Linked DNA regions of Homo sapiens: regions 1 and 2 are each linked to region 3. Evidence: fine-mapped expression QTL. A gene starts in region 3. Each other region holds a variant in brackets. All regions are shown on one strand. Distances are from middle to middle.

Region 1 (5,227 bases), 890 kb before region 3:
AGGAACAGACCCTTCAGAGAGCGTGGCCCTGTGTACTTGTGCAGTCACATGACCATGAAGCAACCCTGTAGGATGGATATACAAATTATTCCACTGGAAAAAAAGAATATTCTCCAGAATACCAGATGGGCTCTCCTTTCTGAAAAGCTGTTGGAACTGGTGAAGAATTGCAATTTTTAGGTGGCTGTACCCAATGGGAAAAGTCAGGTGTTGGAATCTTCCTCTAATTACCAGCCCCTTGTTGAAAGGGAGGACTGAGAGCACTGCAGTGGGGAGGGGTCTGCATGGGAAGAGAGGGGAAGACAGCCCCCAAGCTGGGAACAGGAGGCTTGGAAAGGCAGAGAGAAGAGAACAATGAAGAGGGTTTGTTGTCATTGTTGTTTCTTTGTTTGTTTGTTCGTTTGTTTGAGACAGAGTTTTGCTCTGTCACCCAGGCTGGAGTGCAGCAGCACGATCTCCACTCACTGCAACCACCGCCTCCCAGGTTCAAGCAATTCTCCTGCCTCAGCCTTCCAAGTAGCGGAAATTACAGAAGAGTGCCACCATGCCTGGCTAATTTTTGTATTTTTTAGTAGAGTCGGGTTTTCACCATGTTGGCCAGGCTGTTCTTGAACTCCTGACCTCGTGATCTGCCTGCCTCAGCCTCCCAAACTACTGGGATTACAGACATGAGCCACCATGCGCAGCCTGTCATTGTTGTTTCTTTCAAGAATATAAGAAAGCTGATAATTGGGAGAAAGTTTACTATGCACAAAGGATGAACTTCCCTTTTAGCATGTTTTTTTCCAAAAGCCTTAAAATTTGCAGTTCTACAATTATAGGTATTATACCATGTTGAAGTCTCAATGAATATGATTTTGTACCAAGAGAGGTCCATGTAGAGCCCTCGGTTTCATGAGTTGCACAATAAAACTGCTATTGGTTAAATTCCTAATTCATAAACATAAATGTAACTGCCTTAATAAGTATTCACTGGATAGACTTAGAAATACAATTACAGTTTAATTTTCATTAAGTCAATGATTCACTTACAAAGAGAGAATTCTGAGAACATTTTAAATCACAGAATTCTCAAGAATGCCATTCAGAGCTTTATTTTTGATGCTGATGAAACCAGTGGGATAAGTAGACCCCTTCTGCTCTTACTGATATGTCTTAAATTAGGCAACAAAATAATAGCCAACAAATAAGAAGTATTGTCAAGTTGAAATAGTTTTACCAGCATCTTAATATATTAACAGCTCTCTGGTGGTGCTACTGAATCAAAGACAAATTTTAGACAGTCTAGAGAAAAAGGCAAAAGCATATTCTTTAGGAAGTTGTCTACAAATAAGGTTCTCTGAACTGGGAGCAGCGAGTTTGGGCTTTTAGTCCCTGACAACTCCTTGGAAGAGAGCAGAGCTAAGCCTTGACTTGATGGACTCTTATGAAAGCGGAGAAGCCAGACATGAATCCATACCGAAAGGAAGACCGCCTGACCTTCACACAAAGCAGCCCAGCTTTATAAATGTCAAGAAAGGACTGAGAGCTAGCCTATCCATGGCTTCACCTTTGTTGCTGAAATGGACTATTTACAAGGAAGAGGGCAACAGATAGAAGAATATCAATAATCTCAGAAATTCTCCAATTCTTTCCTCTATCAAATTGCATTCACTAAATTGCACTTTGGCTTTATGACCCTGGTTTACATTGAGAACCAATAAAAATGACCCTTCGTGCACTCTAAGAAAATAGTTGAAAACAATACTGTTGAGAACAGTCATGTCTCTGACATAATATCCTTGGGAAAAATGTTCCTTTGTCATATTCTGAATAACAGGTAGGTTAGGGGGCTCCTACTTCTCCTTCTGATGACATTCAAGAGAGAAGGACATCCCTTTCCTATCAGAATTTTTCCTTTAGTGGAGTTAACATTTCCTATAGGCCTGAGGCAAGAATTCAGAGACCAGCTTCTTCCTCTAGGCTTCCTCTCACATAGAATAGGGACATGGTAGCCATTCTCTGCCAGTGTCAGGTGCCCTGATAGAAAGTGCCCAGCAAGCAATATCACATTGTACCACACCACTAGCCCCAAACTGCTCAGCATTTTTTTTTTTTTTTTTTTTTTTTTTTGAGACAGAGTCTCTCTCTGTCACCCAGGCTGGAGTGCAGGGGCGCGATCTTGGGTCACTGCAAGCTCCGCCTCCCGGGTTCACGCCGCCATTCTCCTGCCGCAGCCTCCCGAGTAACTGGGACTACAGGCGCCCGCCACCACACCCGGCTAATT[T/G]TTTTGTATTTTTAGTAGAGACGGGGTTTCACCGTGTTCGTCAGGATGGTCTTGATCCCCTGACCTTGTGATCTGCCCACCTCCGCCTCCTAAAGTGCTGTGATTACAGGCGTGAGCCTGCTCAGCATCTTTATACATGAAACATATTTTTAAAAGGTGACTATTAAAGGCAGCTTTGAAGAGGAAATTAAGACACAAATGGCAATGAGCATCTAATAAATAAGAGGGGAAAAAATGTTCCATCAACTTAAAGATGGATGTGTGTGAAAGTGCATTAATGGGTTAATTGTGTGTGTGTGGTGCGTATGTGTGCACACACATATGATAGCATACGTATATATTAAATGGTTATATAGGTATTGTGTATTTATATATGATTGTATGTGTATATACATTATTAAATACGATTATATATGTATATATGTATTTATATAATTTCATAGGCATATGTGTGAGTGTATACTTCCTGTGGGTCTTTAAAAAATGAAATCACAAGGAGTTCATCATCCTATTTCTGTACTGGGCTACTTCTTTGACTTACCAACCAATTTGTAAAAATGTAGCCCTGATCCCTAGTATGTGCCCAGAGAGCCCTGTATCTCACCATGAGCTTTGGAACTTGTCTGACCAGGGCCATGGGAAACTTGATATTTAACACTGCTGCTAACTCTTGGCTCCTGCAGCAGAGTATGTTACTGGGATGGCAGTACAAGTAAAAATGGTATGGCAGTGCGGGTCATGGTGCCCACGTACGCTGCTTGGAACAGGCTTTCACGAACCCTCAGGATGAGGATTCATAGCCTACTATCACTTCAAGTCCAAGATGGAAAGTCCTTTTGGTGTCTTCCACGTCATGGTTCATGGACAGTTAGTGTCAGCATCACTGAGGAATGTGTTAGAAAATCAGTCTCAGGACCCAACTCTGTCCTATTAAAACAAAATCTTGCAATGAGACTGAGGAAACCATGATCTGACAAGCTGTGCAGGTGATGCACACTGAAATTTGGGAATCAAAGAGGCCTCAGAAGTGGGTAACTGATGTGTTATTAGAAGGTTACTCAGTCTTCTGATTTAGAGCAGGTGGTCAGGAAATATTCAGTCTCCAAGAGAATGAAAGTAGGGGGCTGACTTACCATTGTAGACTTTTGGGAATTAATAAATATGTATATCTGAAAAAGAGAGACACTTTGTCTAAGTGAATATAGTATTAAGATTCTGTAATTGCCAGAGCATTTCAGGAAGCAACCTTCTGCCTGAGGCAGGACTGTTAGAATGAAGTCATCTTAGTATGGTTATAATGCCTGCCAGATGCATTTTAAAACACAACTGGTTTGACTGGTGTCTAAAACAGGCTGATAAGGAGTTCAGTGCCTGTGAGTCTAAAAAGGCCAACCGTAGAGTTAAAAAACATTCAAAAGCCTCAATCACTTCATTTTGAGACCATATTTTACCTGTGTTACAGTTTCCCAAAATTAAACAGCTTTGTATCATAAACAGCTGAGCAGTCGTCCCGAAATTGTTAGGAATGACTGCCAAAAAGAACTTCCTGTTATGTTTTTCATTATTGTGGCTATTGATCATTTATGAGTAACAGCAAAAAATGAGGGATTTTTCTAAACATTGAGATCTTCCCTTTGGGATCAAAATGCAAATAAGTCAGATGAGGTTCAGACTGGAAGAGGGAGAGGGAAGGAGAAAGTTATTCATGTGAAGCAACCAACTGCATGTTGTAGCGCCTCTAAAGCCTTTGGTCCGTTACTTGTGTTTTCTTTAATTCTAGTTTGATAATGTCTTTGGATGCCTAAGCTCCCCTCCTGTTTTTATCCTATCAACCTTACATCTCAGTTCAAAATTATTAGGCATTTTCCACTGCTATTCAGTGTGATGATCAAAACAAATTGCCAATCCTTTTTCCCTGGTAAAGAGTCCGAGGTACTGACAGTTCAGATAAGCGATGTGTTTCTACAGCAGTCAGAAGTGTACAAAAGTGTTCATCTTGGAGCCCTTAGCTTCTTTGCTCACCATCTCCATTCTTACACCACAACACATTCTGCACATAAAATACTCACATTAATTCAATCATGAAAAGACAAAGTTTACACACTGTCATAGCTCCAGCTGCTATGACAAAAATGCCATAGACTTGGTGGCTTACACAACAAACTATTTCTGAATGTTCCAGAGCCTAGAGCTTTAGTCTCTTAGAAGTAGCTTTTTAGTGCAAAAAAAAAAAACAAGAAACTTCTGGACAAACCAGGATCCACTTTAGGCTCAGGTCACCTCATTTCCAACTCCTTGAACCACTTCAATTGTTAAAGAAAAGTTATTCCGACACTTGCTAAAATGGTAAGGAAAACTTCATTCAAGACTTTATTCAGGACTATTGCAATAGGTGTCAAGACTGTAGCAAGCAACCGGGGAGAGATGGGGCTCCACTTCAAATACAAGAAAAAGTGGAAATCTCTAGCCAAGGAGCAGGTGGGATGGGGATGGATGTTGGCAGAGGGAAAATTACTAACAGGAGACATCAAGGACAGGGGGCATTTTTGTTGGACTGACCACACAGGATTCTTGCTAAGAGCAGGCCAGGGTGATCAGAGATCAAGGGCGTGAGGGCTCTTGCTAAACTGACCTAGCAGGATTCTTGCTAATACTGGATTCTGCCAGGAGGGAAGGCCAAGGCCTAGTTGAGCACAGGGTTCAAAGAAGCCTGACTAGTTTGGTCAGGGAGAGTCTTTGTCACTATGTACCATAAAAACATGCTGACCGTGTCATAACACTCTGGAAGCAGACAGCATCTATGACTGCCCTCCATAAATGACTGGGTCCCATTCCACCATGAGTTTTATTATCAAATCTTGCCCTTAAGGTCTTGTTCATGTCCTCTAGCTCAGCCTACTCAGCAGGGATATAGGAAGATTTTAAAACACAGACTCCTTCAAAGCAAAGATATGAAAGGAT
Region 2 (5,227 bases), 35 kb after region 3:
CACTTCCCAGGTTCAAGCAATTCTTATGCCTCAGCCAGCCCCAAATATCTGGGGTTACAGGCATGCGCTGTCGCACCTGGCTAATTTTTGTATTTTTAGTAGAGACAGGGTTTCACCATGTTGACCAGGCTGGTCTCAAACCCCTGGCCTCAAGTGATCCGCCCACCTCAGCCTCCCAAGGCACTGGGATTACAGGCATGAGCCACCACGCTCATTCACACGTGTAGTCTCTTAAAAAAAAAAAAATAGTGATGCCAGTAGGGGATCTAATGCGCAGCATGCTGCCTATTGTTAATAATACTGTATTGTATTGTTAAATTGAAATAGATCTTAAGCATCCTCGCCAACCCCACACACAGACAAAAGGAAGTGAGAAACGTTCCTTCATTCCTAGTTTTTTAAGAGCTTTTTTAGTTTTTATCATAAATGGGTGTTGAAGTTTATCAAATGCTTGCTTTGCATCAATTGGTAGGATCATATGATTCTTCTTCTTTGGCCTGTTGATGTGCTGGATTATATTAATTGATTTTTGAAAGTTGAGCCAGCCTTGCATATGTGAAATAAATCCCACTTGTTCACAGTGTATAATTCTTTTTATACATTGTTGAACTCAATTTGTTACTATTTTGTTGAGGATTTTTGTATATATGTTCATGACAAGTATTAACCTACAGTTTTCCTTTCTTGTAATGTCTTTTTCTGGTTTTGCTATTTTGGTATCAGCCAAATGCTGGCCTCAAAGAATGAGTAAGTGTTCCCTCTGCTCCTATTATCTGGAAGAGATTGTGGTGAGTTGGTATAATTTCTTCTGTAAATTTTTGGTAGAATTCACCAGTGAAACCATCTGGGCCTAATTCTTTTTTTGTTGGATGTTTATTCATTATTAATTCAATTTCTTTAACAGATGTAAGTCTATTCAGATCACCTGTTTCTCCTTGTGTGGATTTTGGTAGTTTGTGTCCTTCCAGGAATTGGTCTGTTTTATCCAAATCATAAAATTTGTAGGTAAAAAGTACTTTTAAAAAGCATTATGTCAGAGGAAAAACAGAAAGAACTAACAGCCTGTTGCCCTCAGAATTTCATGAACATTAACACTTACTCAGGGCCTGGGGCCAAATTACCTGGATTTGGATCTTGTTTCTGTCGCCCTGCATGACTTTGGGCAATTAACCAGCTTCTCTACACCTCAACTGCCTCACCTGTGAGATAAGGATAATACTATTTACCTCATAGTATTATTGTGAGAATTAAATGTGATTGTGTATAAAGCATGTAGCACAATTCCTGTCACATAATAAGCCCTCCATGGATGTTGGCCATTATTGCTGATTTCAGTTCACCAGTGTCTTTTGAGCATTCATTATATTCCAGGAGTTATGTGAAGCAATGAAATAAAAAGAAGAGGAAACTGTGAAAGACATGTTTAGTTGCTCACAGACTAAGGTCAAAATAGACATAGACAGATCAGTACAGGCCAGTGCGACAGATGGAAGTCTCATCAGAGTGCACAAGAGCACCTAGGAAAGATGAAATGGCAGGGCAAGCCCATCTGATTCACTTAAAGAAGCGTGGGTGTGGCCGGGCACGGTGGCTCACGCCTGTAATCCCAGCACTTTGGGAGGCCAAAGAGGGCAGATGGCTTGAGCTAATGAGTTCAAGACCAGCCTGGGCAACATGGTGAAACCCCGTCTCTAATAAAAATACAAAAAATTAGCCAGGCGTGGTGGTGCATGCCTGTAATCCCAGCTACTCGGGAGGCTGAGGCAGGAGAATCACTTGAACCCAGGAGACAAAGGCTGCAGTGAGCTGAGGTTGTGCCACTGCACTCTAGCCTGGGCAACACAGCAAGACTCTGTCTCAAAAAAAAAAAAAAAAAAAAAAATAGAAGAAGTTTGGGAGTTTGGGTGTCCAGTCTAGGTAACTACAACCCAGGGACTAGCAGAAAAATGCAGATGAGGTTACCAAACTATTGTTGATTTCGTGAACAGTGACAGAGTGAAACAGATGCCAGAATCCTGGACACACTGGTACCCACAGATTCAACTTCCAGAGGAGGCATCCACCACAGGTAGACAGATGCTAACTCTGGGCTGACGTCTCAGTCTTCATAAAAGAACGCATTGATCCCTGGAAGCCAACACAGGCCTGCCGTGAACAAATCTGGTCTTGGCTTGACTTCATTTCCTTTTAGATGGGGCTCCTAAGAGAATTTCTGCAAAAAGTTTGCCAGGTTCTAGGCCTCTTGTGAGAGCTTTGTAGACGAAATGGAGAAATAGAAGCTGATGTATATAGTGCATTTGGTTGGAGTCCTAGCCAGTTAAATATCCTAATCCCCAGGAGGTGGTGCCGTTGAGGAGGAGACAGTTCTGTGTGTGTCCTGTCCTGTGGTGGCTCCCATTCCCACTGGCATCCCTCTCACATTGACACAATGTGTGAGAGACTTAAAATCAGGAGAGATAATAGATAAATGTGTGTCATGACCAAGTCAGGACCTCAAAAGATTTTGATACATTTGGACAGTGGGCCACATTCAACAACATCTATTTAACATAGACAATGTTAAGTCATGTCAGGCCCCAAAACTCAACAGTACCTAAGTTTTGGGGCCTGACATGACTTGGGGAAAGAATAGGTACAGAAGAAGGCTGGGCGTGGTGGCTCATGGCTGTAATCCCAGCACTTTGGGAGGCCAAGGTGGGAAGATCACCTGAGGTCAGAAGTTCGAGACCAGCCTGACCAACATGGTGAAACCCCATTTCTACTAAAAATACAAAAATTAGCCAGGCATGGTGGTGCACACCTGTAATCCCAGCTGCTTGGGGAGGCTGAGGCAGGAGAATCGCTTGAACCTGGGAGGCAGAGGTTGCAGTGAGCCAAGATCTCGCCACTGCACTCCAGCCTGGGTGAAAGAACGAGACTCCATCTCAAAAAAAAAAAAAAAAAAAAAAAAAAGAAGAAGAAGATAGGTACAGAAGAAAAACACGGGGTACTTCTAACATTAATATTCTAGGTGTCCGTGGGGTAGGTAGCTGGTATAATTTGGATATTTGTCCCCTCTAAATCTCATGTTGAAATGTGATCCCTGGTGTGGGAGGTGGAGCTTGCTGGGAGGTGATTTTGTCATGGAGGCGGGTCCCGCATGAATGGTTCAGCACCAGCCCCTTGGTGACGAGTGAGCTCTGCCTCAGTTAGCTCACATGAGATCTTGTTGTTTACAAGTTTGGAG[A/G]TTCCCCCTTCCCTCTCTCACTTCCTCACTCGCCATGTGAGACTCCTGACCCCACTTCCACCAGCACTGGAAGCTTCCTGAGGCCCTGACCAGGGGGCTGCTTCCTGCCTACCCTGCAGAACCATGAACCAATTAAACTTCTTTTCTTTATACATTACCCAGTCTCAGATTTTTTTTCTTTTTTTCTTTTCTTCTTCTTTTTTTTTTTTTTTTTTTTTTTGAGACTTTGTCACCCAGGCTGGAGTGCAGTGGCATGAACACAGCTGACTGCAGCCTTCACCTCCTGGGCGCAAGTGATCCTCTCACCTCAGCCTCCTGAGTAGCTGGGACTACAAGTGCGTGCCACCACACCTGGCTAATTTTTTTTACTTTTTTGTAGAGATGGGGTTTCAACATGTTGCCCAGGCTGGTCTTGAACTCCCAGGCTCAAGCAATCCTCCTGCCTCAGCCTCCCAAAATGTTGTGATTACAGGCATTAGCCATGCACCCAGCCTCAGGTATTTCTGTATAGCACCATAGGAACTGACTATTACAATAGCATTATGGTGAGGAGGTTGTAGAGGGAATGAAAGGAGAGAGGAAGAGGAGGTGAGGGAGAAATACTGCAAATTGGAAAAATAGTATAAAAATGACTAAAAACAATAAGTGCTAGCAGGTACTGAGTGCTTACTATGAGGACTGTTCTAACCACCCTCTAGTGTGTTTAGATGAATTCATGTTGGTCAAGTATTTCCATCTCAAGAGATAGGGAGTTGGTAGAAACAATATTTCTTCCCTTACCTACAAGGATATCTTCAGAGGCCTTATCAAATGTTTTGCAGAGACGTATGTTTTGTCTAGTCAGTTCCTACCTAAATCAGCTTATTTAAATGATGTCATTTAATCGTGAGGAGTGCATTCTCAGTATTCTCAGCCTTCAGGTGAGGAAAGGTGAGCAAAGTCACTTCCCCAAGGCTGTGCAACTGGTACCCAGCCCTGCCAGGCATGAGCCCACTCATCTGCCTCTGAAGCTTGAGCTCTATGGCCTACCTGCTGCTCTGCCTCCCACAGAGAATAGAAATTTCTCTCTGTGCCTACCACAAATGCTGTCATTATCTTTACTTATTAAGAAGAAAAGTTTACATTGTAAACTTCGAAGATGCCCAGGAATGAGGTCTAAAGTGGATCACACATCCGGGCGTGGTGGCTCACACTTGTAATCCCAGCACTTTGGGAGGCCACGGCAGGTGGATCAGTTGAGGTCAGGAGTTCGAGACCAGCCTGGCCAACATGGTGAAACCCCCTCTCTACTAAAAATACAAAAATTAGCTGGGCTTGGTGGCAGACGCCTGTAGTCCCAGCTACTTGGGAGGCTGAGGCATGAGAATCACTTGAACCCAGGAGGCAGAGGTTGCAGTGAGCTGAGATTGCACCACTGCACTCCAGCCTGGGTGACAGACTCTTTCTCAAAAATAAAATAAAATAAAATAAAATAAAATAAAATAAAATAAAATAAAATGGGTCACAGACAGTTGGAAACATTGAGCTGGGAAAAGTAGATTGAGAGGTGACATCAACCCCAGGCTCAACATTAACTAACGGTATGAAGAGGTGGCCAAGAAAGTGAACACAGTCTCTGACTCTGAGGACGCAGGTTAAGTGTCTATAACCAGAGAGCATCTCACACCGGTATGTGTCAGCCAGACCACACAGGATATCATTCTTTTGGTGTAAGTACTACCATGAGAAGAGGGAACATATAAATCTGTGACAAGATATCAGGTATTTGAGGGAAAGCAAGGAGGAATCTTGGCATCATATCAAAGGGATATGACAGGAAGGCCACTGGGTATTTAGGGAACTGTGTGAGGTGTCCTTAAGAAGAAAAATGTCGGCCGGGCGCGGTGGCTTAGGCCTGTAATCCCAGCACTTTGGGAGGCCAAGGAGGGTGGATCACAAGGTCAGGTGTTTGAGACCAGCCTGACCAACATGGTGAAACCCCGTCTCTACTAAAAATACAAA
Region 3 (5,227 bases):
ATTTTAATCCTAATTCGTAGTTTATGATTTTCTCAAAATTTCCCCACACACAGAAAGAAACTTCAAGGTTAGGTTCTAATGTTACCATTGCTAACACTATTGTCTTTGGAGAAGGAGGAGTGACGCTCTGTTAAAAGATCCTCTTTACATCCAGGTAAAATTCCATTTCCAATTTATCCAGTGAGCACAAGGTTCTATTTCAGCAACCACATAGTCTGCAGTGGCTAAGATCCAATTTCCTTATCTGTAATTGAGTATGTGTAGTTTCTCTCTCCCTCTCTCCCCTCCCCTCCCCACCACCCCAGGTTTAACTTCTCTTCTGAAATTGTCTTTTGTGTTCTTTGCTGTTCCCATGAAAAATGAGTCTCAAGTCTTACTGCGAGATCATGAACGATTAAATTAAAATCATCAGGAATCCATTTTTATGGATTGTAAGGCCCTGAATCATCTCAGTAAGTTTTTCTGGGTAACCAAGTCCAATCAAGTTCCAAGTTCACTAAGCTTTCCTATGAGGATTACAGTAACTTCACCGCTCTCTCCAACTCACACACCAGGGCATGCAGTATTGCTTCTGCTCAGGTGGATGGTGTTCACACAGCTAAGCCTACCTCCAATGGGAGCTACAAAAGAAATCTGAATCTGTTTTGATCCAGTTGGTCCTGCAATGTTATGTATTAGTTCCTGACTCTTCGGAATGAATTATATTATACATCAAGTCACTACTTAGGACAAATCAAAATATTTATGTTTCGCTGTTAGTCATCTTTAGGTGGCACTAAAGAGCTCTTTTTCTTGAAGATGTCTTATATCTGTTTTTAGAGTCACCAAAAACCATCTCAGAGTTGTGTTAAATTCCCAGTGAGTCTTTCTTCTCATGTAAATCGATGGGCACTCTAACCTACCTTCTCCCATCCATTCCCACTAAACCCTAGGTCCAAATCAACTATTTCTTTGAAGGATAAAATTCAGACGTGTGAATATAACAGCAGTTTGATGGACACACTCAGACAATTCATTTCTTCAGGAAAAGTCATATAAATCATCAATCCACAGGGAAAATTAGCGTGAGTGCATTCCTTGGTTTTTGATTTGCAGTTATTTTGACTTTTGCAAAAGCAAGATTTTGTTCTAATGGTTAGAATGGCTCCAACAGGCATTTCCCCCAAGAAGCTATCATGTCCCAAATCTACTCCTGAGGCTCACATCACACAAATTCTTCCTCCTCCTCATCACCTCCCTTCAAGTAACTAAAGCTTATTGTAACCAGTAAACAAAGAGGAAGAGCACAGTGTTGAAAAGATAGATTCAGTTTGCTAATTTGCTATTAAATGAAATAAAAAGATTCTAGATAAATGCAAAAAAATCTGGCTGTCAAGGTCAAGTTTCTCAATCCCATTTACCTCTAAAAAATGTAAAACCTGTCATAATGAAAGGGCAGCCTTTTTCCCCATTGAAAGAACCTATTTGAGCATTCTCAAAGTAACTCTCCAATCATTGTTATCAAATTTATATGAAACAAACTCCTCCACCCTAAATGTAAGGAAGATAGTATCTGATCCCAAATATCGTCCATATTCATGTGGTTTAATGTAATCATTTCAGATAACTTCATTATTTGCCCTACCCTGCAATACAGGTTTGGGGATTTTCTACCCGTACACACAGTCCTACCAAATTGCCTACTGGAAATGTTGATGTTAATAGGTTTCACAGAGCTTTAACGGACTTGTAAAAGCCCCAGATATTATTTTCTGCCAAATTCTCCTGAAAACCCCAAATTCACGGGCGGCTGCTGGCTACATCCCATCGTCCCATCCCTCGCACCGCCCCCACGCTTTCTGGCGGCTTCCCGGTGCCCTGCTCACGCCCCGGCTGCCAGCCCCAAGCGTGCGCCCCGTGGAGCGTCCGGCAGGAAGGGCGGCCCTGCCAGCGCCACGTACAATGCCCCCTCGAATGCCTCCGACTGTTCCAACACTGCTCCTAAGCTTAGAGAGGGCTGGTCGCAGGCCGAGGGGAGGCAGCTGCCCTCCTCGTCCTCTGGCTGCTTTGTCACAGCCCTCAAGGGCGTAGGAAGAGAAGGAGAAAGTGCCCCACCACCTGGCACGGGGCCCACCATCACCTGCCTCCCACACCGCACACCCTTTACACACACAGGGTCCAGCCGGACGTGGAGCGTGGACCACCTGGACATTGAACACCTCGCCGGGGACGCTCGGAGCCGGCTCCTCCGCGCTGCCAAGGCGGGCACCGCTCAAGTGGTTCTTGGCTCGGCCCGGCCTGGAGGGGCGCGCCACTCAGTGGCCAACCGGAGCGTCTAGAGCCCCGCGCGAGAAGTGCCGAGCCCCGGAGCGGCACACCCCGAGAGCCCGGCTGGCCCCGCCCGGGAACCAGGGCGGGTAAGGGAATCAGGGTCGGCCCGGGGGTCCGCGTCCACGCGGGCCAAGAGACTGGATCCATCTTCTTCCCAAAGTGGGAAAGCCTGTGTCAGGCGTGCCCATTGTCGGGCAGCAGCAGCAGGGCCGGCGGGAAGAGGCTGCTGGTCCCGGACCAGCGCCCCGCACCGCGCCCGCCGCTTCCACTCACCTGGCAGTTGGCGCCGGAGATCCCGGCGGGGCAGGTGCAGCTGTAGCCAGGCTCGCCGGCGGGGGCCGGGTGCTGCGGGTCCGGCTCAGGGCGCGAGGTGCACACACCCCCATTCCGGCAGGGCTGCGCGGCGCACGGCCCGGGCGCAGACAGGGGCGCGGCGGGCACCGGGTTGGCCAGGGAGCTGCCTCGGGGCCCCGCTCCGAGCAGCAGCAGCAGCAGGGCCAGCGCGGGCAGCAGCTGCGCACCGGGCGCCTGGGCGCGGCGGGGCTGCATGGCCGGCCGGGAGGGCGCGGGAGCCGGAGCCAGGACGCAGTGACGGCGGCGGCGGTGGCAGTGGCGACGAGAGCTGCGAGAGCGACGGTGGCGGCTAGGGCTGCTCCGCCGGGCCGGGCGCCTCCTGCAGCTGCGGGATCCGCGGTTCCCCGGGCAACGGCGGGCGGGGCCTGCGGGGCGGGGCGGGGCGGGGCGAGCGGGGGGCGGGGCGCCTGGCGGCCCCGGCTCTGGAGCATCGGGGAGTGGGGCCTCTTTCCCCGCAGGGAGTTGGGATGGGGGTTGCAGGAAGACGATGCGGGACCCCATCCCCCAGGAGTGGGTCGAAGTCACGGGTGTGTCCAGAAGCAGCCCTGGTACAGGGAGCCAGGCGACGCTGGGGCAGGAAAGGGGCTGGAGAGGTCCACGAGTGAGGGAAGCGGGGCTTTGAGGGGCTTCCAGAGCCGGGAGCACCGAGTGCGCCCCAAGGCCCGGGCAGGGCAGGGCGCGGGAGGCGGCAGGGCGCCTCAAGGGAGGGGCGGCGCGCTCGCAGCAGCCACCTTTGGCCTCTTGGCGCAGAATCTGCGAGACCGCCGCGGGGCCCGGCCTTGCCTCATCCCCCGGGACTGCTCCCCTTCCCACAGCGCTTCTCCCGGCACCCCAAGCCCTCCCGCCCGGCCACGGAACCCTGCGCCCGACGCTTGCTCAGCAGCCGGGTTCGCCTGGAAGTGACCTCGCCTCCGCCAGGCGGACCCGGGGCCCTTGTCCTTGGTGCTGACCCAGCTGTCTCATTCTCGCCGGCCCTTTCCAGAGCGCGGGGCCTTGCCGCACCACTAAGGAACGTCTGGCCGCGCCGTGTGAGGCCGGGAAGAGGCCTTGGTGTAAGGCTGTCCACCCCTGTCGTTGAACCTAGGGGGAAACTGAGGCCCAGAAAGTCTGGATTCGAATCCAGTGGGTCAATTGACTCCCAGCCCAGAACGCCCGAAAGAACAGTTCAAAAGCCCAGGTTGGCAGAGGCGCTGCTAGCGGCAGGAATCGCAACAGGGGACTCTGCATAAAAGGAGCATTCGCTGTGACCTACTTCGGAGGGGATGGGGGGGGCGGGCTCTTCTACACGTCCTGGCTGGGCTGGCTGGTGCTGCGACCGCCAAGGAGGCTGCACTCCGCTGAATAAAGCGCATCCAGCCTTGTCTCCTCCACCTGACCTTTCACAATCTCTATTACCTGTGGGTTCCCAGGTACCTGTTACCTTCTTTTTAAGGTGGCCAAATGAAAAAAGAAAATGTGATTCCCCTGGATTGACAGTCTGGGCCAATTTTTTTTTTAGTAAACACAAAAATAGCTTGTTTTGTTTTTTAAAAAAATTAAAGTAAGGACTCCATGTGAACTTCTGCTGTAGGTGTCACAGACGCCAGGGATTGCTAAAAGTCCTCCAGTGGAAACAGAAGGCAAACTGCACGGCTTCTCCCTGTCCTGTTCAAACGCAGAAGCAAATGTCACACTTTTCTGCTTCAGGAGATACCTAAAATTCATGTGGCCATTGCAGGAAATCACTGAACCCCAGACAGATCTGCAAGCGGAGAATTCAGACCTCCAAGTGGATAGAGTTATTACATTTTTCCTCACACCTGCTGTCTTTCAATCTAAGACCTCTTCCTCTTGAAAATTCTTAATTTTGTGCCACGCCAGCACCCTCTGCTGGTACTAGTGTCGTCATTCAGGTGGTTTCTGTGCCCCTGGAGTTGCGTTCTTTCCTGAAACTAACTTCTCTTACCTTAAATCCTGGACTAGTGGATAGTGCTCTTCATTGCCTTCCATCAAGACACACACACAAATGAAGCAAGATGAAGTGTAAAAAGGTTGTGAGTTAATTAAAATCACATTTCAGTTTATTGTACTTTTGCCTGAGCAACCCCTTTGTTTGTGTATTTCATATTATTTTGAAATATAGGATAATTAAAAGTGGTTTTATTTTCTGGATGCTGGTTACTGCATGTTTCAGATAATTTTCCTTGCTAAAAGTATTCTCTTAGTCTTTAATCTTTAAAATGCATATTATGGCAGAGACAATACAAGATCCTTTCATTTTTTCCAGGCTAAAAAGGAAAACTATAATCTTCCAGCACCTTAGCTTATAGGCAGAGCAACATGATTAATGCTGGGGAAAAAGCATATTGATTTGCATGTCCTGGTCCCAAAACATCCATGTACTAAGTGCCATGAAAGTGTTAACTATTATTACTGTTACCACGCTCAGAGAAATGGGTCTTTTCTGTAGATTCCGAAAGCTGATCTGGTACTTTACTGACAGCTTTTCAACCATCTGCAAGATCCCCCAAATACTCAACTAAAAAGTCCAACCAATGTATTACCCTGTCACATTAGCAAAAGT

Which allele goes with the higher level. Alleles are on the strand shown, and positions count from the first base shown. SD is a standard deviation of normalised expression in the study named. Not every link is listed here.
For the expression in pancreatic islets of the gene that starts at base 2,991 in region 3, G is the high allele of the variant in region 1 and T is the other (moderate effect, 0.54 SD a copy in PISA).

What was found. PIP is the estimated chance that this variant, and not a neighbour inherited with it, causes the effect. A credible set is the group of variants that fine-mapping cannot tell apart.
Region 1: its variant is the best candidate, but not a certain one, in a credible set for the expression of DNER in pancreatic islets (PISA, PIP 0.51).
Region 2: its variant is the best candidate, but not a certain one, in a credible set for the expression of DNER in blood mononuclear cells (TOPMed, PIP 0.73).

The regions. Positions count from the first base shown.
Region 1 is chr2:228,823,700-228,828,926 of GRCh38, forward strand. No RefSeq gene overlaps it. Among named protein-coding and RNA genes, the nearest start is that of LINC01807, 210 kb to the left of the region's middle. The variant T/G (reference allele first, on the strand shown) is at 2,267.
Region 2 is chr2:229,746,808-229,752,034 of GRCh38, forward strand. No RefSeq gene overlaps it. Among named protein-coding and RNA genes, the nearest start is that of DNER, 35 kb to the left of the region's middle. The variant A/G (reference allele first, on the strand shown) is at 3,227.
Region 3 is chr2:229,711,565-229,716,791 of GRCh38, forward strand. DNER (delta/notch like EGF repeat containing) reads right to left here and starts at 2,991. Exons shown (of 13, transcript NM_139072.4): 1 at 2,584-2,991. The coding sequence starts at 2,859. RefSeq lists silencers at 2,822-2,931, 3,002-3,061 and enhancers at 2,899-3,673, 3,674-4,447.